Regions from separate parts of the Homo sapiens genome. Here regions 1, 3, 4 and 5 are each linked to region 2. The links come from fine-mapping of genetic effects on gene expression. A gene starts in region 2. Each other region holds a variant in brackets. All regions are shown on one strand. Distances are between the middles of the regions.

Evidence for each region. PIP is the estimated chance that this variant, and not a neighbour inherited with it, causes the effect. A credible set is the group of variants that fine-mapping cannot tell apart.
Region 1: its variant is the best candidate, but not a certain one, in a credible set for the expression of AK5 in fibroblasts (GTEx, PIP 0.52).
Region 3: its variant is the best candidate, but not a certain one, in a credible set for the expression of AK5 in fibroblasts (GTEx, PIP 0.67).
Region 4: its variant is the best candidate, but not a certain one, in a credible set for the expression of AK5 in whole blood (TOPMed, PIP 0.70).
Region 5: its variant is the best candidate, but not a certain one, in a credible set for the expression of AK5 in cerebral cortex (GTEx, PIP 0.61).

Annotation. Positions count from the first base shown.
Region 1 is chr1:77,320,496-77,325,495 of GRCh38, reverse strand. The region is part of intron 5 of AK5 (adenylate kinase 5); the gene reads right to left. Among named protein-coding and RNA genes, the nearest start is that of AK5, 41 kb to the right of the region's middle. RefSeq lists an enhancer at 2,958-3,252. The variant C/G (reference allele first, on the strand shown) is at 3,052.
Region 2 is chr1:77,280,138-77,285,271 of GRCh38, reverse strand. AK5 (adenylate kinase 5) reads right to left here and starts at 3,253. Exons shown (of 14, transcript NM_174858.3): 1 at 2,899-3,253. The coding sequence starts at 2,958. RefSeq lists a silencer at 3,334-3,393.
Region 3 is chr1:77,350,251-77,355,384 of GRCh38, reverse strand. All of the region lies in intron 6 of AK5 (adenylate kinase 5), which reads right to left. Among named protein-coding and RNA genes, the nearest start is that of AK5, 71 kb to the right of the region's middle. The variant A/T (reference allele first, on the strand shown) is at 2,055.
Region 4 is chr1:77,434,689-77,439,804 of GRCh38, reverse strand. All of the region lies in intron 8 of AK5 (adenylate kinase 5), which reads right to left. LOC124904202 (a long non-coding RNA gene) reads left to right here and starts at 2,201. Exons shown (of 2, transcript XR_007066178.1): 1 at 2,201-2,385. The variant G/A (reference allele first, on the strand shown) is at 2,549.
Region 5 is chr1:77,560,581-77,565,707 of GRCh38, reverse strand. ZZZ3 (zinc finger ZZ-type containing 3) reads left to right here. Exons shown (of 15, transcript NM_015534.6): 15 at 1-3,292. The coding sequence ends at 68. Among named protein-coding and RNA genes, the nearest start is that of ZZZ3, 120 kb to the left of the region's middle. The variant C/T (reference allele first, on the strand shown) is at 2,291.

The DNA of each region.
Region 1 (5,000 bases), 40 kb before region 2:
TTTCCCGTAAAAGTGTGTAGGGAGAGGAAGAAAATAAGGAGTTACATCCAAGGTTGTGTCCTGGCAGGCAAAAATGGGTCTGTGAGAAACCCTGATGATATAATCAAATTACCTTTCTATCAGTCATTAGTGAGATTTTATTCTACTACTACCAGAAATATAATAGTTGCATTTTGTATTTAAAAAGTGGTGGTCAGGTGCATTGGCTTATGCCTGTAATCCCAACACTTTGGGAGGCCGAGGTGGGCGGATCACCAGGTCAGGAGCTTGAGACCAGCCTGACCAACGTGGTGAAACCCCGTCAAAAAATACAAAATACAAAAAAAAAAAAAAACAAAAAACCTACAAAAATTAGCCAGGCATGGTGGCATGTGCCTGTAATCCCAGCTACTCAGGAGGTTGAGGCAGGAGAATTGCTTGAACCCAGGAAGCAGAGGTTGCAGTGTAGTGAGCCGAGATTGCACCACTGCACTCCAGCCTGGATGACAGAACAAGCCTCCGTCTCAAAAAAAAAAGTAGCTCGTAATCTGACATCCAGCTCTAAATTGCTCTGATGTAATAGAGAATGATGAATTCAAGCTTCAAGTTAGAGGCTGATGGCCTGGTAGCCACCATCACATCCAGAAGAGGAAGCTAAGCCGAGAGACTACCCAATGAAACGATCTGCAGAATACATGAAATCAAGTCTCCTTCAGACAATCAGGAACAGTCTCTGTTCAACAATTTCCCCATCTCGCCTCATGCCCCTTTAACTACAACCCTACTTCCAGGAGGAGGGTAGAGGTTTTTTTTTTTTCCCTATAAAGATCTAATAAATGTCTTGGTAGATTCAGAGTTTCTAGAACATCTGAGATGAGAATTCAAATGGTTTAACTCTGCGGTCTACATCCTGGGGGGTGTGGCCCCATTCAGGTGGGTTTATATCTGGGATGAGCAGAGAATCATCATTACTAATTATCACTGCACTTTAGATACAGCTTCAGAATCCTTCTCAGCATACTGGGTTAGGCAGTCGTTGCAATTTGAATGTGGTACACAAGATGAAATCTTTTTGCCACCATTGGTTTATACACATAAATGAGGTGGCTCTATAGGCATACACGAAAATTAGTTTTAGTCTTATTCTATAGCCATGAGTAAGACACACACACACACACACACACACACACACACACACGCAAATGGTGAACTTTTTTTTAATATGTTCCACACTTAATTAATTGAATTTTTAAAGCAGTGGTGGACAGAAGAGACATTTTCATTAAAATCAGAGAAGTTATTTCCTAACATTGTTCATGCCATTTCTTAATGTTCGGCATTTTCAGCAGGCTAATCTTCACCCTACTTTCTCATTAGTAAATGGGTAGATTGCCAAGGCTCTACAAGGCAATAGCTATTATAAGAACGGGTCTTTTCAAATTGTGCTGGTGCCTTGAGTTGAACCCAGACTTTTGAGTCTCTGTTGGCTGCAGCAGCAGCAGCAGCTGCTTTCACCCTGGTCTTCTGCTCCAGCAGGGAGCCAGAGCACTGAAATGTAATCATTCTCACAGGATATTTTTAGATTATTGATTTGGTGCTTTATTGTTTCCTTATTTTTGGAAATGTATGAGTGATTTGGACAGAAACTAATCTGAACTGGAAACCCTTTCCAAATATTTCTCTCCTCTATTTCTTTCTCTGTGTGTGTGTTATATCTATCTACACACACGTGTATGTATGCACACACATACACATACATAAACACACACTGACTAAAGAATGATATTTATTAGAATATTTGGTAGTTCAAGTGGAATATATTTGAGTTAATTTCCAAAAGGCTTATTATTAAATTATAATAGAAAGCAAAGAAGTTCAGATATGGAAAGGCCTGCTAGGGATTTTAAACCATTATTCATTCTAATTATTCATTTGCTCGTTCATTTCGATCATTCATTCAGTAAATATTGAGTGTTTATATGTACAAAAATAATATTAAAGAATTCCTAAAACTTTTCAGACAAGAAGAATCAATGATTGGCTCTAATAATTTGCTCTAATGTTTATGGTACTTTTAAGGAGATGTTTCTCCTATATAAATTCAAAATTGTTTTCTTAAATGCAAATTTATTTACTCAGCAGAAAAGAAGCAGACAACATGCTATTTAAAAACTCTTTTACATGCATGGGAAACAGTTATAAGGAGATGACTATAAAGAAAAACAGGCTGGGTGCGTTGGTTCACACCTATAATCCCAGCACTTTGGGAGGCCAAGGTAGGCAGATCCCCTGAGGTCAGGCATTTGAGACCAGTCCGGCCAACATGGCGAAACTCTGTCTCTACTAAAAATACAAAAAAAATTAGCCGGGCGTGGTGGTGCATGCCTGTAGTCGCAGCTACTTGAGGAGGCTGAGGCAGGAGAACTGCTTGAACCTGGGAGGTGGAGGTGGCAATGAGCCGAGATTGTGCCACTGGACTCCAGCCTGGGTGACAGAGCGAAATTCTGTCTCAAAAGAAAAAAAAAAAGAAAAGAAAAACAAAGATTTTGAAATAAACAGCGCAGAACTTGTGAAACTAAATGCATTCTCTGTGAAACTAAATGCATTCTCTCTTACAAAATAGGGCATTTGGAAAATTAAAAATTCACTTTAATATGTTGTCCACTGCTCAGAGCATTTTGGGATCTAACTTCAGACAGGATCTTCTGAATCTAAACAGCAGTCCTTTGAGACTAGATCGACCTTTTTTATTGCTTAGGGAGATAGTATAGTTGGGTGGAGAGAGCACTGGAGAAAAGACAGTAAGGTGCGTAATTTAGCTCTCACGTTAACTAGATGTGTGAATTCCAGCCAGTCATTTAATCTCTCTGGGACTCAATTTTCTCATTTACAAAATGAGATCAGTAGCTACCAATCTTTTTTAGTTCAAAGACCGTTTTTAAAGTTTTTTTGTCTTTGTTTTTGCTTTTTTTAAAATCCCAAGAATCTCCACATGGTAAAGCTGTACTTTTGGCATCAGTTGATTGAGAAAATGCTTCTGTTTGCCTAGGTTTGCTTTCCTCTGCAATGACT[C/G]AGCAACCCCCAGAGGGAGGAACCACCAGTCACCTGAAGCCAGATAAAGTAGCCGGTAAAATTTGTGCTTGAGTTACTCTTCTATGAATCAATGTACTCATGGAGACCATTAGTTAAAGAATGAAGAGAAAGAATTTCTTTAGGCCATGACTCACAGAAAAAAAAAGAAGAAAAAAAGAACCAAGGACTACAAACAGATTAAATCCTATAATCAAGGGCTACTCACCACATTAGTAAATTAGTCACTATTCATTCTTCTGATGCAAACACAAGCATATCACCCTCTATCCCATCCACGTATTTGGACAAATACCCATGACTATGTATTCAAACAATGCTATTTTAAAAATAAAGATATTATTCTTCTCAGTCAATATTTTAGGAAATAATCATCATGGAAAGTTAAATAATAAGCTAGACACGGCTCACCCTGTTTTCATAGTACATAAAAATTTGCTGCTAATATATAGAAATACAATTGATTAGTAAATTGACCTTGTATTCCATGACCTTGCTAAATTTAACTAATAGTTTTGGTACACATTTTGTAGATTCCTTAGGATTTTCTTTGTAAACAATCATGTATTTCAACAATATAGACAATATTAGTCCTTCCTTTCCTGTATTATGCCTTTTGTTTCTTTTTCTTGTCTCAGAGCACTATTTAGAACTTCTCAGACCACTATTTAGAATTTTTACTACTTCTATTTAACAACGTTAAATAGAAATGGTAAAAGCCGACACCCTCACAATTCCCAATATTAGGGGGCAGCACTCAACATTTTACCATTAAGTATGACGTTAGCTATATAGGTTTTTGTAGATGCTCCCTATTAGAGGAGAATTCCCTTCCAATCCCAATTTGCTGGTTTTTTAATGAACTTATGTTCAATGTTGTCAAATGCTTTTTCTGCTACTATGATCAAAAAGAACATCAAGCTTTTAAAATGTACTGAGACTTTTTTTTTTTTTGAGACGGAGTCTCGCTCTATCTATTGCCCATGCTGCAGTGCAGTGGCGAGACCTCAGCTCACTGCAACCTACGCCTCTCGGGTTCAAGTGATTCTCTTGCCTTAGCTTCCTGAGTAGCTGGGACTACAGGCGGCACCACCGCACCTGGCTGTTTTGTATTTTTAGTAGAGATGGGGTTTCACCGTGTTGGCCAGACTGCTGTCAAACTCCTGACCTCAGGTGATCCGCCCACCTCAGCCTCCCAAAATGCTGGGATTATAGGAGTGAGCCACCACGCCCGGCCGAGACTTGTATTAATGGCTTAGTAAATGGTTTATCTTGGTGAATGTACCATACACACTCAAAATCACTGTGCATTATTCAGTTGTTTGATACAGTGTTCTAGACATGTCTATTGTTCTTTAGATTTTCTATGTCTGTACTGGTATTTTGCCTAGTTGTTAATATTAAATACTGAGAGAAGATTGTTAACATTTCCAATTATGAGTTTGCATTTGTCTATTTCTTCCTTTATTTCTATCAATTTTTGAGTCATGGATATTGAAACTTTTTATTAGGTATATACACATTTATAAATTGTATGTCTTTCTGATGAATTGATGCATTCACCACTATGGAGTATTCCTCTGTCTCTGGTGATACTCTGTCTGAAGTCTACTTTAATGTCAGTAACATCACTCCAGCTTTCTTATGTGTAGTGTTTTCATGGTATACCTTTTTTTTAGACAGAGTCTTGCTTGTCAACACCCAGGCTGGAGTGCAATGGCGTGATCTCAGCTCACTGCAATCTCTGCTTCTCGGATTCAAGCAATTCTCCTGTCTCAGCTTCCTGAGTAGCTGGTATTACAGGCATGCACCACCATACCTGGCTAATTTTTGTATTTTTAGTAGAGATGGGGTTTCACCATATTGACCAGGCTGGTCCCAAACTCCTGACCTCAGGTGACCCACCTGCCTCAGCCTCCCAAAGTGGTGAG
Region 2 (5,134 bases):
CATTCTTCCCATACGCCAAGCCAGTATTAGCCTCATTAATAAATAAAAGCCTCTGTGTCATATATTTATTTGCATACCCAGTGCATTCTCAGCCCTGTGTGACTTTATTATCCCCATTTTATAGATTAGGAAATCATGGCTCAGAGATATTAGTGATGGCTCTAGTTTACTCAACTAGAAACTCCTAGGCCCAGGATTTCAATTCAATGTTTCCAATTCCAAAACCCATATGTTCTTCTCTGTACCTGTTGCAGAAACGTGATATGAGATAAAAGAAAACATGAGATTCTCTGTGCCCTCTGCAAAATGCCCTCTTTTTATCCCTACTATTGCCTGAAATGGGTGAACACTCTCAATGACTCTTTTCTGAAAATATACATTTCCAGCGTCCTTAAACAATACTGGTTCACCAAAGGGCATTGATTTTAAAATGGGACAATGAGCTCCATTCCTTCACGGATAATTCAAATCTTTTCTTCTAATAGCCAGCCACTATCAGGGATTGAAGACAACCAGCACATATTATTGCTCAGTCTCTGAGTGAACCCTTTGAGACCTTGAATAATCTGACTTTCCACAGTATTCAAATTGATTGCCAAATCTCTGCTGTAAGCTACAAGATCAATATACACACCATAAGGTTAGCCAGAATTAAGAACTCATGACAAAATAATAAGAAAGTGGGTTTAAAAAAGTCTAAAACTGGAAACACATTTCAAACATGAACGTACCAGAGATATCCCATATTCCATTTAGCTTACATGATGTCTCAAATTAGGAAAAAATCTGAAAAGGTCAGTTAGATATATTTACTTGTCTGACAATACGTCAATACAATAATCAGTCAGTTTGTCTGTAATAGCGTCTAAAATCCACAGCTGGGGCCAATGTCTTGGTGTTTAGTAGACAGCTAATTGTTAAACTTTGTACACCTAAAATATTGTGGTGGGCAAAATCCATTTTAAAAACCTAAAGTTTTTAGTTTTACAGTCTACACTAATCACATGGAGAACTGCCAGATTTTCCTTCCCTCTTGAGCTGCGCATAGCACAGATTCGTCTTACTGAAGGATGTAGCCTTTGAGGTCACCAGCAGTCTACTTCCATCTTCTCATTGTCCACAAGTGAATCTAAGTCCATTACTGTATTTCACCCAAGCAAGTTGACTTCCTTTTCTGGGTGTGCATTATTTATCCCATTCATATGCAGAAAAGTAAATAAGAAACATAAAACCTTAACAAAAAGGCCTGCCATAACTTATTTGCATGCACAGTGTAGATTTTAATAAACTATCAAACTTCTCTGTGGTTACCTTCCACCAAGGAGGAAAAACAGTACCCACATTTACAAAGAAAAAAAGATGTACTATGTAGGAATTTTTGCAATCACGTGGTCCTCCTACAGATGTTTTTAATGATTCTTTTAGAAGCGTAGAAATGAAATATATCTCAGTAGTAATCTTTGTGAGAAAAACCTTCGCCTCTTAATTTCCATATTTACTTTTTGAAAATAAAAACAAACAAAAAAAACAACTCTTAAGATTCCCACATATTCTCAAGACCTGTCCTTATGCAACACCACCTAATTATTTTCACGCAGGAGTAACACATTTGCTAGATTTGGGCTTCACATACCACGCTTGAGTTCAGTGAGTGGTTTACCTGGAAATCTTGACTTCAGATGACCTGAAAACGGTGGCTTATAGAGGTGAGAGAAAAGAAGACCTGTAATTATGGCAACCCATTTTAAAGATAGTTTAGGGAAACTGAGGCAAAATTATTTTCTCAAGTGGTGCTTTAAAATTCCTTTTAACAGAACAAATCCCCCAAACCGGGGGGAAAAACCCTCATGACCTTTAGTTTACGATATCAGTCTATCCGTTTTCAGAAATGGGGAACGAGGTTTGCAGTGAATGGATTTCTCCTTTCAGAGCTCGCTTAGGAAGCCTGGCTTGCTTCTATTCTTTTCTCCTCCTCCCCCCTACTTCAAGCAAAAGCACTTGAGATTCAGGAATGTTTTTAAATTCAAATACAAAGAGAAGGAAAGGAAGCCAAACGACCTGAGACAGGGGTTGTGGCTTAGAACAGACCAAGGTTCATTCCTCGAGCCTCCTCTCTCTCAGTCTCCAAGTGTCCCCCCATTCCCGGGTCCCGGTGCAGATGATGCTGTGCTGCGGTCTGAAGACTGAGCAACAGGAGTCCGCCCCCCTCGCAGCTCCCTCCCCGACCCGCTATCTCCAGGTGGGTTGTCGAGCACTGGCGAAACCTGCGGCCCAACCCTTCCTAGGCAACGGGAAAAACGTGCTCAGGAGTTCATTCAGCGAAAGCGCAGAGCAAGGCTGGGGGCCTGTCACCGGGGAGGTGGCACTTGATAGGTTGGGTTTTGCTTTTTGCATCTTCATCCCTCTCTTCCAAGCTGTCTCCAGGAAGGGCTGCCTTCGTCCACATTTCCTCTTTCCCCCAGGGGTTCCGACCCTCGACCAGCAGAGTGACTAGGGCTCTGGCTCCCTCAGTTTCGAGTCTTTACTCGCTGCTGGGCGACAGTGCAGCCACCTGACCTGGCCCTCGCCCCCAGAGAGTGCGGCCCGGCCGCGGTCTGCAGCCCACCCTGGGTGTCCACATCCGAGGGGCGCGATGGGAGCAGGCTGCTTTCAGAACCCTGCTGGAAGACTGAAACTTGATCTGTGAGATGCAGGCTTCTAAGCCCAGCCTTCTGACAAGGACCCTGGCAACCCGCGGGAAAGGCGACTACCCTCGGGGGAGCGGGCGAGTGCGCTTCTACAAGCCCCTTCATTACATGCCCCGTGTGGGGAAGGTGGGACGGGGCGCGGCTGCCTCAACCCGAACCCCTGAGATGCAGTCCCCGGATGCTACCGCCCGTCGGCCAGCTCTAGCCCTACCTCAAAAAGCTGAGGGATTTCCCTCCGGGCCAGATACTCCTTGGCATCGTTGGTGTTCATGGCTGTGCCGCGCGTGCCTTGGGGCGCAAGCGGGGAGGCTCCCGGGCTGCGGCGACCTGAGCCGGGGCTGAAGCTGGGGCTGGCAGAGTCCGCGCCGAGCAGCGGTGCAGCCCTCTTTCTCACGCGCACTCAGCTCAGCCTCTCCGCCCAGGCCAGGGACCCCCTCCGCCTCTCCCCGGGGGCTGTGGTCTCCGCGCTCCCGCCGCCCCCGCTTCGGTTCCAGCCCCCGAGCCGGAGCTGCAGGCGCCGAGCAGCTGTGCCGCGGCTTCCCGGGCTGCCAGGCAGCGCGGCCGCCAGGGGTGGGGCGCAGGGAGCGGAGGAGGGAGGACAGCGTGGCGAACGCAAGGCAGCAGCCGGCCCGCCTCTCCGGTTCAGCGCGCCGCGCTCCGCGCCTCCCCGAGCCGGGTCTGCGGCGGCTGCCGGTCACGCTGCGCGGGCTGGCGCGAGGTGCGGAGGTGGGGGCGGGCACGCGCAAGGGGTCGTAGTCATACCCCTCGGTGCGGCACCGGCGCCAGAGCGCGACGCTTCACTGCGTGCGCCGCCCAGGGATGCAGCTACCGGGGACCAGGTGGCCAAGGGAACAGGGTCGGGGTCTGTAGGAACCTGCGACCGTTTCGCTTCTCCGGACCTTGTACGCACACAGACACACTCGCACGCACATACACGGTTACCTCCGGGTCTCCGAGGAACTCCCAGGAAAAACCTAATAGTCACAGGATTTATCATTTATTCCTAAGGTTACGGATCTTTCACTATAGGGAGCTGTGGGGAAGGGGGAAAAGGGGATTCATGGTGTGGAATCCAACCCTTCAGATAATTTTTAGATCTTGAGTATCTCTATCCTTCAGGAAAGTTTTGCTAGCTGGTTTCGAATTTTTACCCTGTCGGTGTCACAAATCTTTATAGACTTTAGGATAAGGCCTTAGTGTGAGCCTGAAATCCTAATCAACTGAAGGACTAATAAGTAGTCAACTAGTTAATTATCTCCATGGAGAAGAAGGGACAGTGGAGGAGAAAGGTGGGTGGTAGTGGAGAGCTAGAGATGCTTAAATTGCAAATGTGTTTAGTAGGTGGGGAGGGTGGGCATCATTAATTAGACCTGAAGAGTGTGCAGTCCGTGGACAGTGTCGTATCAGAGCACCCCTGGGGGAATATGAGTGAGTATGAGTGGGTGCGCTAAGGCATAATGGTTAATGGATCTTCCTGCTGCAGACCATTGTTAAGGTGTAACCCATCTTCCTCCTAGCTCCCAAGATGACTCAATTCCCTGCTAAGATGTCTTCACATTGCCTATTTGGGAGATAGTCCTTGCCCCCGGAGAATATGATCTCTAACTTCCCACAAAGCCTAACACTGTAGGAGGGTGTGTGAGAGAGGACACTTTGGTAGGCACTGGTATCTGGGGTCTGGCTGGAGAAAGAAGCAACGCTGCCACTGCTTTAAAAAACTATAGAGTCTGAATGTCCATTTCAAGTGCTTCTTTGCAGATCTTTTCTTGGTTCTATTTCTTGTTCCGGAAACAACTGCAGCTCAAGCCTTAACTACAGCTGCAGCTTTGTTTTACCTGAGGGAGTAAATGAACTTTTAGCACTTGTGAACCCGTGTGTCATATGGTTGCCTTAAACGAGGCAGGTATTTCAGTTCCATGGAAATTGGTTTTTGCCCTTAGAATATGCCATTTCACTTACAGTCCCAACTTCTAGTATTTCTTTAGCTTATTTAAGATTGGCTATGGCAGTAGTGAAGGCAGTGTCTCTTCCCTATGCAATGATGCTTGAAAAGTACAATGGTCCGTGGCATTAAGGCTTCCTTTGTGAGCAGGCACAGTGGAGGTGAACACGCAGGAATGAAAAGGCCAGTTTCTCCAGGACTTTTCAAGGTCATCCTTTGCAGACAAGAATCTGGCAGAGCATGGCTCACCTGTCTTCCCTTGAAGAAATGCATAATTCTAAGTGTACTTTAGTGTTACCGGACAAGTGTTGGCAACTTGCTTGTAAAAAGAGAATGGATAAGAAAGACTGCACTGCACTAAAAATTGTAGATAGCCTGAAAAATGTAGTAAATGGTGATACGGCAAGTTTTCAAGTAGCCTTATGCAGAGACAATTAGTGTATTTTGGTGTGTGCCAGGGTGGAGAGAGATGCGTGAAAGAGGAAGATGTTCATAATTACTTTTG
Region 3 (5,134 bases), 70 kb before region 2:
GAATATGAAGTGGAGCAGTACAACTGTGGAATTACCTATCCATGGGATTTTAGAAAATGCACTACTTGATATTTTTAATATCAGATTTCATTGTTTTAAGAATTCAGATTGAACCGATGAAATGAGCCAGCAATCACAAGTACGCTGCAGTCATGCAGCAACTGCTCACTGAGCCAAAAGGATTTCACCTAAGGCTTTACAAAATCTTCTGAGACAGACAGAATTTAGTTGGAAATTACTGCTGCATTAATCATTCAGTTGTATGAGACCATATCATCTTTTTGGGCTTCTGCTAGAATTCATTTGTCATGAACATATGAACTCTAAATAAAGCTTTGGTAAAAAAACGAAAAAATAAACATTATCAAGTATATATCAAGTGATCGTGATGTCTGTATTCAGATTTTTAAGCATAAATTTCAGAATAGAGGAAAAATCATATCTTATAATACACAGCACTATTTATCTTTTGAAATTAAACTTTCAGGTAAGATACAAGATTTTTTCTTTACAAAAAAATCTATTACTTCTATTTTTCCTCCTTGATCCTGAACTTGACAGCAATTGTGGAAATTCTTTGAAGCAACACTCTGTGGTATTTTCTGAGAAATCTCTCATGGTTGCTGACACCTTCAAATAACCTGTGAATTGGCAATGGTTAGAGACTAGGCCACAGTGGAAAGCATGAATTTTTGAAAGCTCAAATTTGAAGCATTACTGAAAAGCTGTTTATTCAATCCTAGTGAATGAAGTCTAAAGAGGTTCTTGTTCACTCTCAGCTTATTAGGATGAACGGATGTAGTACAATTCATTAATGTATGCATTAAGTTAACAAATAATTCAAAGCACCCACTACAGTCTGGCACTGCGCTGGCTGCACAGTCCCTACTAAGTGGACTACTGAAAAGAATAGCCTGCATCACATTACAACTTACACACATTCAAGCTTCCCTTCCACAGACATCCCTTTAAATTCAGAGTTGGCTTTCTTACTTCATATAGGAGCTCTTAAAGCCAAAAATCAACATTTTCATACATCTTTCAGTACCCCCCCATTAGCTAGAAATCTCAGAATAATTGCCTAAAAAGAAATTGATGAATGAATATATTTGTAGATTATTTTATACTAAGCTAAATTAAATTCCTCAGTGGGGTTGTTGAGCAGGGAGAGAGCAACAAGAAATTAGAATGGTTTAGATAAAATTTATTTTATTCCCTACTCCTTCCCTGGCTGCTTATCTCTTGATTCTGTCTTTCCCACCACTTACTCCCATTTCCAATCCTGAACTTGGTAATGGCTGTAACTCCACTTAGAAATTTCAGATGTCTCATTTCTTCTTGAATGCATGGAATAATCTCTGTTCCAGAGTGTCAAGTTCATCCAGTCCCACCAGAGTTATCATGGAAAGGCAGGTGCAATTTACTCCCTCCTGCAGCCTTTTGTACATCCTTCCTCCTATCATTACAATGGTCAGATGCAATGAGGCCACTCACTGATCTCCTTTCCTCCCTTTTCTCTATGGGCTCCCTCAGAGCAGTGGCGTGTCTGTGTACCTGCCTGTGTCCCACCTGCCAGGTTGGGTTAAACTAGCTGGAAGCATCCTGCAGTTGTGCCTGGGGAAGGGCCCTCCAGAGGCCAGCTGAGTGGGAGGCAAAAACACAGACAAGGGAAGCCCATTATATTGAGGAAGACAACAGCAGTTGAGTCTGAAGGGTGAAACAGGGCAGACTGGGATCAAGGAGTAATGTCAGAGTGAGACGCAGAGTGGGTAAGGCAAGAGTAAGACTGCGCAGTTTAGAGTTTATCTGAGAAAAGGTAGCAAGTCCCTATCTTTACCTGAAATGAGATAATCTAAATAGAAACACCTGGCACACACAAGGCACTAAATAATTTTTTTTCTTTTTTTGAGATGGAGTCTTGCTCTACCGCCCTGGCTGGAGTACAGTGGCACGATTTTGGCTCACTGCAACATCCGCCTCCTGGGTTCAAGCGATTCTCCTGCCTCAGCCTCCTGAGTAGCTGGGATTACAGGCATGGAACACCATGCCTGCCT[A/T]ATTTTTGTATTTTTAGTAGAGACAGGATTTTACCATGTTGGCTAGGCTGGTCTTGAACTCCTGACCTCAGGCAATCCGCCCACCTTGGCCTCCCAAAGTGCTGAGATTACAGGCTTGAGCCACCATGCCTGGCTGGCACTAAATAATTTTAATACCTACATGACAGAGGTGAGTGATTAAAATAGTTAAAAATGTGTAAATCAGTTGGCGCTGCACTGGATACAGTATGTTAGTTCTTCACATCTCTTAGAAACAAATTTCTTATTTTTTTTAAAAAAATAATTAAGTATGTAAAGGTAAATTAAAATGGAGACCAGACTTGAAGAATCTCTGAGAAGATAAAGCCAATTAGGTCTCATAAGTGACCTTAACTTTGCTCAATTTGCAAACATAAACCAAACTTGTGCTACTTCTTGTAAATGCCTGTATTAAAGAAAAAATGAAACTTAAGACTAACCTATCAGAAGCTGCCAAATAACTTATTTAACTAAGGACTTTCCAGCAAGATAGATCAAATAAGGCAACTGTATAACAGTAACCAATCAAATGTTTTCTTTTCTTCACTTCCTTCTGTGTTTGCCCTAGAAAAGCCTTCCCCTGGTGTTCCCTGGTTGGATCTCCTGAACCACTTCCAGCTTGGAGTTGTTCAATTTATCAGTCGCTGTTTGTGCAAATAAACTCTTTCAAATTTTATTGTGCCTCAGTTCACCTTTTAACAGGTATCATTGCTTCTCAAACAGCAAAAACCTGCAGGTTCACATTAACAGGCATTATCAATATATTTTCTGGCTGTTTTGAGAGGGGTGTTTAACTCTACTTGGACATAAGTTCTGGTTGAATTCCCTGTCATTAACTGAGGGATCCTCTAACATAGAATCTATTTCAAACCTCAGCTCCCTTGTTTACTGGCTTCAGGCTTTATGGCATGTTCCTGACCTTCTCTGGGCCTCTGTTTCTTTCATTAATTTTAAAACACTGTTGGAAGAATTAGATATAAGATGAATAAGGAGTCTGGTATATTGAAAGTGCTTACTGAAAAGTAGCTAATATTATTAAGCACATTTTCTATTTTAACCATTTTTCATAGAACTACTTGCAAATGGGCCGGGCATGGTGGCTCACACCTTTAATTCCAGCACTTTGGGAGGCCAAGGTGGGCGGATCACAAGGTCAGGAGTTCGAGACCACCCTGGCCAACATGGTGAAACCCAGTCTCTACTAAAAATACAAAAATTAGCCGGGCATGGTGGCAGGCACCTGTAATGCCAGCTACTTGGGAGGCTGAGGCAGGAGAATTGCTTGAAACCGGAAGGCAGAGGTTGCAGTGAGCCGAGATTGCACCACTGCACTCCAGCCTGGGCAACAAGAGCGAAACTCCATCTCAAGAAAAAAAAAAAAAAAAGAATTACTTGCAGATGTATTTTACGTATCTTTTCAAACAGAAAAAAGGATTATTTTTAACCTTTTGGTGGTTATTGTAGGTTGGCTCACTCATTTATTCCAGCTCCTTTCTCCTTTGTCTTCTTCTACATCAGAGGTTGTAAAGCTAAAAACTCCGTTTTGCAGCCTCCCCTGAAGGTAGGGGAAACACATGCTCCACTTCTGACCAATGAGATACAGGTGCCAGTCAATGAGGGAGGGAGAGGGGGTTTATGGGAAAGCTTTTGCTTTCCTAAAGAAAGGCAATAGCTGTGGCTTCCCAGCCCTTTACTATCTCACCTTTTTTCTGTGTGGAAGGTAGACTGGATGATTTTGTCACTATGAGAAAGCATTAAAGATGTTGGAACAGAAAGACAGAAGGGGCCTGGGTCCTTGATGACACCATGTAGTCATTGTACTACTCCTAGATCGTCCATCTCTGAACATATTTTTACACACATCAAATAAACCTGTTAATTTAAGCCATAGCTATTCATATATTTATTTATTTATTTAGAGACAGGGTCTTGCTCTGTTGCCCAGGCTGGAGTGCAGTGCTGCAATCATGGCTCATTGCAACCTCCATCTCCTGGGCTCAAGTGATCCTCCCACCTCAGCTTCCCAAGTAGCCGGGACTGCAGGTGTGCACCACCATGCCCAACTAATTTTTTGTATTTTTGGTAGAGATGGGGTTTCGCCATGTTGCCCAGGCTGGTCTTCAATTCCTGGCCTCAAGCAATCCACCCATTTCAGCCTCCCAAAGTGTTGGGATTACAGACATGAGCCACCGCGCCCGGCCCAGTTATTCTTTTATTGTAATGAAACAAACCTTTTATTTTTGGTGAAGACCAATTATTGCACAGTGCTTTAATGGAATTATGTCCTCACTGCTGCAAGATGTGCAGGGCTGTCTGCCATGAAAATAAATGGTTCCATGTATAACGATTGAATTAATTCATTAACTTACTTAATGAACTATTTTGAAACAGTTATTAGTGGAAAGAAAAATTTGTGATTCAACTGACTCTACTCTCCCTTTGCTTGGATTTTAATGTCACTTGATAATGCTTTAGCTTGTCAGAGTCCTGATTACATTCCCTTTCCTTCCCTATCTCCTTTCCTTTCAGCCTTGCCATGAACACTATCCAAAGGGTAAACCAAAATGGTTAAACTGGGAAAATGTATGTTACGCCTATGATGCAGGTGATTTTTGAGTGCTATTTTCCCTTAGAGAACTTTTCCAATTACTCCCATGTTTGCCATCCGTGCCAGATGGTTGCCGATCTGCCATATGGAGAAGTAAAACCTTGTGTCAGTCACTATTCCAGTCCAGGCCCTTGTCACGCCTCTTCCAGATGCTTCCTCCATTCACTGTTTCACACACAGCTACCAGCTTAATATTTCTAGCTGTGTCACTCCCATGCTCCAAGCCTTTCAATGTGGCCCTTGCCAACAGAAAAACCCTTCCTCCTTAGCCTAGCACTTCAGTGCCTTGCTCAGTTTGATGACAGCACCTCTGTCCCCTGGTTTCTACTTCTCACTACTCTGTTCTACACGTGTCTGCTTATCATGACCTTCTTTCCTATTTCTGGGTTCCAACTCCTTCCTGCCTCTCAAGGGTCAATGTTTCCAGGAAAGCCTTCCCTAATCTTTCCAGGAA
Region 4 (5,116 bases), 150 kb before region 2:
TATATACATATACATGTATACATACATATATATGTATATACATACATATTCTTTTTTATGGCCAAATTTTATATAAATACTGTCATTTGCAGCAATATGGATGGAACTGGAGGACATTATGTTAAGTGAAATAAGCCAGGCACAAAAAGATAAATATCACAGTTCTGACTCATATGCAAGGGCTAAAAAAGTAAATATCATGGAGGCAGAGAGTTAAATGTTGGTTACCAGAGGCTAGGAAGAGTGATGAGGGAGAGGAGGTGAAGAGAGGTTGGTTAATGGGTATAAAAATGCAGTTAGATAAAAAGAATAATTTCTAGTTTTTGATAGCAAAGTAGGGTGACTATAGTTAATAATTCATTGTGTATTTCAAAATGGCTAGATTTGTAATGTTCCCAATGTAAAGAAATGATAAATGTTTGAGGTGATAGATATCCTAATTACCTGATCATTACACATTGTATGCGTGCACCAAAATATCACCTGTTCCCCATATGTACAATATGTATCAATAAAAATTATGTAATCTTCCTCATTTTTCCTTTAGAAAATGTTCGCTTCCTTTGCCTCCCTAAATATGCACATAGATTACTACAGCAAATGTATTCCCATGGCAATGTACATTCCCAAATAAATATTATTTTCTTTCAGAGAGTCTCTCTCTCTCTTATTTAGGATTATATAAATGGTGTCAGAAGTGAGATCTAAGTCAGCTCACCTTAGATAGATTATCAGCCCCTGAAATGGAGAGCAGTATCACCTGAGCCCTTTGTGCTCTTCGTTTCTACGAGTCGCCTTTTTGGTCCTGGAGAATTTCTTCTCAGATTTTCTGACTCTCTCCCTTTGGTGAGTTTTTTGGACATTATTTGGGATCTGATTTGATTGTAAGGCCACCTTAATAATGGACCTTGCATTCCCCCTGGAATGATAAAAACTTTTGTCTTTTCTGGCAAGCCCTTTCTGGTTTAAGGACAATGTTCTTCTGGTTCGAGTACTCTGGTTTTTATAGAACGTGTACTTTGTTTGTGATGCATGTCTCTTCTGGTGAATTCACTTTTGGTCTGCATGCCTAGTTTGATATTTTGGTTGATTAGCATGCCTGGCTTAACATTTTTGTGAGCACTCTAATTTTGGTTTCATTTTGGTCTGGTTATGCACATCTATAAATAATTTGAATCTTGTACTTTTTTTCTCTTCTTGCTTGCTTTTGAACATCTTCCCAGAGCAAAAATAAACATACAAAGTGGTAGGTGTGAGATGGCCAATTAAAAGCCACTATCTAAAATACCAAACTCCTGACATTCCCTGATAGAATGCATAGATTTCTTTTCTCTCAAGAGATTAATAAGAAACAAAACGAGATTCTCAAACATTAAGGCATGCCAGTTTTTCTGGGACTCCAGCCAGCTACATGGTTTTTCCTCATGCATGTTTTTAAACCAATGGCCATCTTAGGCGTTATTTGAACTCCCCAAGCTTGTTTTTTTTTTTTTTTTTTTTTTTTTTTTTTGTACCAAATATAGGGTTAAAACAAAATGCTGGTATGTAGAGGCTCTCAACTTCTTTTTTTCTCCTTTTTTTCCCCATCTCTGCTTCTCTGAATCTGCTTTTTCACTTGTATTAAAATAACCTAATTTTGCTAGTTTCCAAAGCTACTTACAAGTTTTTTAAAGAGCATTTCAGCCAAAATAACAAAAAAAGAGAGGGCTTTCAAATTACAGTAGTTCCATGACAGCCAACAAGCTATCCAGTACACCTAAGAGTCATCCCTTTTGGAAATGTTAATTTAGTTTTGATTGACTAGCAATTGCTTAGGGTGATTTAACAATTGCTTTAGTTAATTAAAAGCTAGATAGTCTAAGAAGGAAAGAACTAGATTAAGGTTTACAAAAGTTAGGCTCTCAGATCAAACAGGTCGAAATCTTGAGCTCAGGGGAATAATAGAAGGTATCTTTGACATAAAAATTTTGCTTTGTCTGCTGTATGTGAGCCAGGAAAAGCTGAGGGGAAAAAAAAACCCTTTAAATACCTTTTTCTAAAATGCTTTCCTGCCTGCATCGACTAATCAAGTAAATCAGACAAACAAATAAAAAGATAAATTTATTGCCGGAATTCAAGGCCACCGGGGTATTTTGTTTTTCTACACAATTTAGTTGGTGCTATCTAAAATGAAAATGTTTGAATATTTAACCTCTGTACCAGTTTAAAACTTGAAGGAGAAAAAGAGGTTTCTAAAAATCAAACTGCTGTGGAAACTGCTTTACCCAAAGCTTTGGTCCACAGCCTTCATAAGATCACCTATCAGGGCAAATAAAATTTAGCCATGTGAACAGGTCCCATTTTGTCAGAAATATAATTTGGATTCAACTGTCCTTTTATAAACTGGTAAGTTTAAATTACTATGTTTTGCTGTCTCATGATTAACATTTCAAAATGAAAGCTAAAGAATCTGCTTCGATGTATTCATGTTGTCTGTATGTTTTTATGTTGCATGTATGTATTTTTCTACCAAAATATATCAAAGAGCTAATTAATTAATTAATTAAAG[G/A]GAAAAATTAAGCACTTCAATCAAGTATGTTATCAAAAACATAATAGCCACCTCAAAGTTTTTAAGTTCACCTGACTTGGGTAAATGTTTGATAAGTAAACTGATTTTAAAATTGTTGATAAAATAAAAACAGAAATGTCTTAAGAATTGTCAGCAAAGATTTGTGCCTGAGTTTACTGGTCAGGCAGTTTTACATTTATCTTTGTTAGATATATTTTAAGGAGTCAGTGTTTGACATGAATGTCATAGAACTATGAATCCATCCTAAAAAGAGAACGATCTTTGTTTATGTAATTCCTTGATAAGTAATACTAATTTAATATTGTTGATTTAATGAAAGCAGCTGTATTTTCTGAGTTATTGGCAAGATACTGAAGTATTTAACTTTATGGTTCTTAGTTGGGTGAGGAATGCTTAATAGTCACAGCCTGTAAAAACGGCTAACAAGGAATTAGCCTGAAATAATTACTAGCCTTGTCTAATATCTTAGTTTTCATAAGTAATATAGTTATAATTGTTAAAAATAAACAAATTAGGTGAATGTAAATGGTATAATCATTTATAAATTAATTCTTCTTAGTTTCAAAAAATCTTTTTGATAACTTAAAATTTTAAAGTTATGTTAAATTAAGTAACAGATACTCATTAAGTATCTGGGTCATTTCAAAATAAGATAAAATATTGAAACAAATTGCTGAACACAAATATAAGTTTGTTCTTGGCTTCTTAAATTTTATAGAAAAACAAATATATTTGGGTTCATTAATACACATTAAAATTATGAGGAAACATGTTTCCAAAATTATAAAATCATTCTTATATATAAAATACTGATATGGAACAGTTCAAAATTTCTTGCTTCCTACACTTTCATTAGAAATTAATGTTACTAAGAGTTTGAATTTTAATTAACATATATAATTCTGTATACAAAGCATACCAATAAATGTAAAATGTGTTTTGGGAGGAGAAGTTATAAGAAAGGGATAAAAATATGTTCTTTGTTGAGAAAAAGAAAAATTTGTCTAATTTAGAGGTTATTTAAAGATTGTTTCAAAATACGAATTTAGAAAGGAAATAGAAACAAGACAGAAAGGAACCAGTAAGTAGGAAACAGAGATGTGAAGAAAGTTTTAAGTGTGAAGATGTATTTTTGGCATGGAATGTTAGAAGTGAATAATTTTTCAAAATAACAAGGGAACAAGGAAAGTAAATTTTTATCCTAAGGTGACTTGTTATTTTAAAAAGCGAATGTATAGGACAAAACTAACGGCTTAAGCATGCCATCAAAGGTCTGTGCAGATCGTGAAAGGTTTTTGAGGGATGAATTTTATAAAAGGAGTTTTGTGTGTGTAATCAAGTTTGCTATAAATAAAAGGGAATTATGTATATCTTTCTAAGGATTAAGGATTATATACATAACTTAGTTTATAAGTTAAAACTTAATTTACAACTAAGATATAAAACTAAGATTTTGGTTTCTTATATTAGAACAACAGAGTTTTCTTGAAGTACTAATCTGCTCTTAGTAAAATTTGTGAAAGTCTTTGATTTTTAATTCTGTAAAATTTCAGCCATCTTCTAAACTGCAGCTTCTTTTTTTTTTTTTTTTGAGACAGAGTCTTGCTCTGTCACCAGGCTGGAGTGCTGGCGCCATCTTGGCTCACTGCAACTTCTGCCTTCCGGGTTCAAACGATTCTCCTGCCTCAGCCTCCTGAGTAGCTGGGACTGCAGGTGTACGCCACCATGCCAAGCTAATTTTTATATTTTTAATGGAGATGGGGTTTCACCATGTAGGCCACGATGGTCTCGGTCTCTTCACCCTGTGATCCCCTGGCTTCAGCCTCCCAAAGTGCTGGGATTACAGGCGTGAGCCACCATGCCCAGCCTCTGTTTTACAGTCTATTTACTTTCCCTAGTTTCAAATTAAAAGTGCTATGTTCTTCATTTAGGATGGTAATTTCATTTCTTGAGGTAAAGTTTTCCTCTTGAAGCTTTTCAGATTCATATCTCAGAAGTACAATTTTTGCTGTATCTTGCAGCACAGGATTTGAGGTCATACAACACTGCCTTCTGCTCTTCCTGTCCCTCCTTGAGAGGATACATCTTTTTGCTTGGCTAGGTTGATAACTCGCTCCTTCAACTTTTTCGTCAGCTCCTGAAACTTTTTTCTCTACTTCAAGCTCTGCTGTTATGACCTGATGCTCAAATGTTTGTCTTGAAGCCCTAGAAAAGCAATGTTCCCCTCCAGTATATCTTGATTCTGCAATCTTGGTTTTTCTTGATATGTTTGAATTGTTCCATCTAACCAGGCAATTTCATGTTTTCACTTTTTTAAAGAGCCATGTATTCCTCTGCTCAAGGTACTAGTTTTCTTGTTTACTTCTTCTATGATATGATGTAAACTCATACCACTGGACCCACTCTTCTTGTGTCTGATTAAATTCAAGTAGTTTTTCATCAGGTTAGACTTCCAGGTTATTTAAACGGGCTTCCAGTAAGAAGCAATTATATTGCAGGAAGCTTTTTCTTTCTTTCCCCCTTTTGGTAATTGGCCTAAGATGAAGA
Region 5 (5,127 bases), 280 kb before region 2:
ACTACTGTGTGTCTCAGGGCACCAGTTACAATTACCTTGACCCAAACTACTTTCCAGCAAACAGATGACATGGAAGAGAACATCATTTACTAGTCCTCTTCAACACATAGCAATGGTATCATTGTTAATTATGTGCACAGTTTGGAAAGATTCTCTGCTTTCCCAGAAATGACACTCACAGCATGAGAGCTTCCTGAGTGTTCTCGTCAAGTACAGCTCTGCACCGTTGTGGCTCTAGATCACTGTTCAGCAGCTGAACATTCCTGGTGAGCAAAGGTTTCCCTGGTGAATTTTTCACCACTGCGTTTTAGGTGGTGATCTTAAATGGGTGAGATGGAACGAGAGCACACATTAAAGAGAGAGTAAATTCCAAAGGTTTCAAAGAACTTGGTCATAAATATGATAATGAGAAGACAAAGTATTTATATTAAAACAGTTTAGTAGCCTTCAGTTTTGTGAAAATAGTTTTCAGCACAGAAACTGACTTCTTTAGACAAAGTTTTAACCAATGATGGTGTTTGCTTCTAGGATATACACTTTAAAAGAACTCACTGTCCCAGTGGTGGTCATTGATGGCCTTTAGTAAATTGGAGCTGCTTAATCATATTGATATCTAATTTCTTTTAACCACAATGAATTGTCCTTAATTACCAACAGTGAAGCACTACAGGAGGCAACTGTGGCATTGCTTCCTTAACCAGCTCATGGTGTGTGAATGTTATAAAATTGTCACTCAGATATATTTTTTAAATGTAATGTTATATAAGATGATCATGTGATGTGTACAAACTATGGTGAAAAGTGCCAGTGGTAGTAACTGTGTAAAGTTTCTAATTCACAACATTAATTCCTTTAAAATACACAGCCTTCTGCCTCTGTATTTGGAGTTGTCAGTACAACTCATCAAAGAAAACTGCCTAATATAAAAATCATATATATGGTAATAATTTCCCTCTTTTGTAGTCTGCACAAGATCCATAAAAGATTGTATTTTTATTACTATTTAAACAAGTGATTAAATTTAGTCTGCACAGTGAGCAAGGGTTCACATGCATTCTTTTATACTGCTGGATTTTGTTGTGCATCATTTAAAACATTTTGTATGTTTCTTCTTATCTGTGTATACAGTATGTTCTTGAATGATGTTCATTTGTCAGGAGAACTGTGAGAAATAAACTATGTGGATACTGTCTGTTTATATTATAGAATGCTTGTTGTGACTTCCTTTTGGTTAGATTTTGGATTTTTTTTTTTACCAGTGTTAAAACCAGAAATTGGTATTTTTTAAAATGGTTTGCTTCACATATTTAAGAGTTTTCTTTCTGTCATTTATGAAGAATAAGGAATGTATTATGGAAAAGAGGGTGATCTTAAGCAACCCTGTAAAAAATGGTAAAGATTTTTACTCAGTGTGTGCTGAAACACTAAATTAAACTAGCTTACAAAAAGGAAACACGGACCATGGTTAAAGAAAAAGGCAATTATTAATGCTCAGGTGTGAAAACTAAAGTTGAAAATTTTTTTTCTAGTTGTGTCTCATGAAGATAAGCCCCCATGTATTTAAACAGATGGCTTTTGAAAAATCACCTTGTTTCCTGGAAATTACTATTAACTATAGGAAAAGATAGTATAAATATTCTAAGATTGATTGTTATATTTGACCCAATTTTTAGAATCACCTGTTTTTTCCTATTTTAAATCAAGGGAACATTATTTACTAGTTCTCTTCAGTACATAGCAGGGTACTAAAATCATACCCTGAATTTTTTTTAATTGAGAAAAGTAATAGAATTTTAAATATAGAAATATGAGAATTTTAAAGTAATATATTGATTAAAGATCACTGATGATATAGATATAATATATCATAACAGAAGGAAAGTAAATGGACTTGAGCTTAACTTCTCACCCTGGAATTATTAGTGGGTGAAGAGGGGAATCATTAGCATTCTGGGCGTTTTTATATTAAATGTTTTGTGAATATGCCAGAAGATCTGCCTTCAACTTGTAATTAGGCAAGATAGTAATGCTTGATGGTAACTTCTATGTTTGTGTAGAAATAATACCAGTTAGTTTTGGAAAGCCATTCAGATCCATTCAAAAATTCCATAAAGTATGATGTATGCTTTGGAAGAGGGATATGAGTGATACAATTGTTATATAAATGGAATAGACAAACCATTTGAATGCATTTTTCTAGGGCAAACATTTTTTGAGATTTTTGAGTTAAGAAGATTTTTCGGCTTGAGCAGAAGATGTGTTTGTTTTGCATTTTTCAGCTCCAAGGAAA[C/T]AGCCCCCATGGCTTTAAAAGGCCCTGAAGTTCAGATAGTAGTAGGTAGTGTTTTGTTATTGTTTTAATTTGAGAGTTGCAGGAATAATGGGCAGAGCTGTCATTTGCCGGTAGGCTACCATCTGCCTACATAGAATTATTGGACTGTAAGCTAAAACAGACTGTAAAAGACCTACTTGCTAAAGCATTGCTTATTCAGTGGTATTCAGTAGATAAGATCTATTTCCTGATATATTGTGCTCAAGTTATTTGCACATCTTAAGAAACTTTTAATATCTAAAACCATTGTTGTAAGATTTAGGTAGAGGAGGTTTCCTTTTGTGTGATGCATAATAATAGAAAACACTGATACAGTGTTTACTATGTGCCAAGCAAGCATATGATAACTAATTCTTAACAACTCTATGAGGCAGGGTCATTTATTATCCTGTTGTCATATGAGGAAATCTCGCCAGAGAGAAGTTAATTAACCTGCCCAAGGTCGTATAGTTAGTAAAGTGGTCATGCTTGGATTTTAACCTAGGCAGATTACTTCAGAGTCAGCGTCTGCCTTACTATCCTGTTTCCTGAGCAGGAATTTCCCCTTGTGTCAGGCAACACTAGGTGTTAGGAGTGGAGGTGTGCAGATGTTGCCTTACATTCTGTTTTCCTGATGTGGTGTGCTTCCTAAGAGTACAAACCTGAGCATATGTCCAGGCTTGCAAAGTCTCAGGCAAAGCTGGGACTAAGGCTTGTGTTTCCTGCCTTGGGTAGGATTTTCTTCTATGCATGTTGGGTGCTTCTCACTTAACCTAATAGTATGCCTTGTCTGTTTTCCCCCCTTCCCCTTTTTGTTTAAATTGATTCACAGAACACAAAAATTTACTAGGTATGAACATTTGAAAAAATGGAATAGAGAAAATGGTACATCACATGTAATAAAGATAAATATTGTTTTGTGAAATGTCTTTTTCAATCATAAATATGTGTTGTGTGCTATATAAAACTATTTCTTATTGTGGATATTGAAGTTTGAAGCCTGTTGTTCATCTATAGATGCACTGGATGGGATTGGAAGTCTTCAGATTTCAGTAGGGTTTTCCACAAGCTTATGAAGACATTGTTCTGTTTAGGCTGTAAACTGTTTTTATTTCTTGATGAAAAATGTTCTTCTATTTATATGATCCCAGAAAAAAGATACAACTTTTTTTTTCTACAGTTAATGTAGCTAGTTAACTAGAGTTTTCAGAGTTATAATACATTTAGCTCCATGAGAACAGAGACGATCCATGTCTGTCTGTATCTCTAGGGCCTGGCATTTAATAGATTCTCAATAAATATGTGTTGGTTGTATGACCAACATTTTGGTGAGTTTACATTTTTTTCCTCCAGGAACTTGAGAGACACCACCTATGATTGAGTGTGTCTGTGAGATCCTTAGAGGCCTTGCATCAGAAGGTCATCTTGACAGTTCTGTGAGAGGACAGGGGAATTGGACTCTATCTTACCCAAAGGCTGTGATTCAACCCTGGGTGGCAGAGGTGGTTTTGGTTCTCTGTGGGACCCTAGATAGGCTGTGTATCTTGATTCTCTTCCATGTTTTTAAGAGTAGTGTAATGGGGCTGGGCATGGTGGCTCACGTCTGTAATCCCAACACTTTGGGAAGCCGAGGCAGGTAGATTGCTTGAGCCCAGGAGTTTGAGACCAGCCTGGGCAACATGGCAAAACCCTGTCTTTACTTAAAATACAAACAAATGGGCATGGTGGCACGTGGCTGTAGTCTCAGCTACTCGGGAGGCTGAGTTTGGGGGAATCACCTGAACTTGGGACGTTGAGGCTGCAGTAAGCCGAGATGGTGCCATGGCATAATAGCCTGGGGGAGAACGCTGTCTCAAAAAAAAAAAAAAAAAAAAGCAAGGTAATGGAAAGGACACTGGAGTGAAAATTCTGGGTCTTAGTCCCAGTTGTGGAAGTGAAGCACTCAGTAAGTGTTGACAAAGAACTACCTTTCATTGCACATTAGGAGCTAGTAAATGATTCGTGTGTCTTACTAACTTTTGTTTAATCCTCAGTTCCTCTATGAGGTTCATTACTATTATGTTCTCCATTGTATACATGAGAAAACTGGAGGTGCAGAGAGTATGTTAAATATGTTAGCTCTCAATAATAATTACTGTGTGTGGGACTGGAGATACCAAGCCGTGTCCTTATGGAGGTTATAATCTAATGCAGAAGACCAGCAATAAGTAAGTAAATAAAAACTATTACTTCAATTCAGGCAGGGATAAATGCTTTGAAGATAAGTAATGCTCAGAGAAAAATAATAATGGGAGAATGGGGAATAGTCTGCCATTTTAGATGGAATAAGCAAAGAAATCCTCTATTGGCCAGGGTAAATTCAAATAGAAACCAGAATAGAGCAAGGGAATTTGCTGCATGAATAATCTGTAGGAAGGGGCAGAAGGATAGCAGTAGCACACGGGCCCTGAGCCAGTAGACCGTGGCTTGTTCTGGCAACATTAAGATGGCCAGAGTAGCTTAAGCCAAATGAGCAAGAGGAGAGTAGTAGTTGATGGCGTCGAAGAGGGCACAAGCCAGCTCAGATGTGGCCTTGAAAACACATCATTGTAAAGGAGTTTAGATTGTGTTCTGATGTCTTCTACATACACACAGGTCTTTCGCTAGACAGAGACCTCTAAGGTCTTTTCCAGTATTAAAATCTTATGACTTTAAAGTAGTGATATCATTTCAAGCCATTCAAATCAGTAATGTGTTCTAGAGAAGAGTTGATTTGCACTTCTAGATACTCTTCAGGGGCAAAGCCATTTACCCTTGCTAAATTTTTCAAGGTGGCTGTC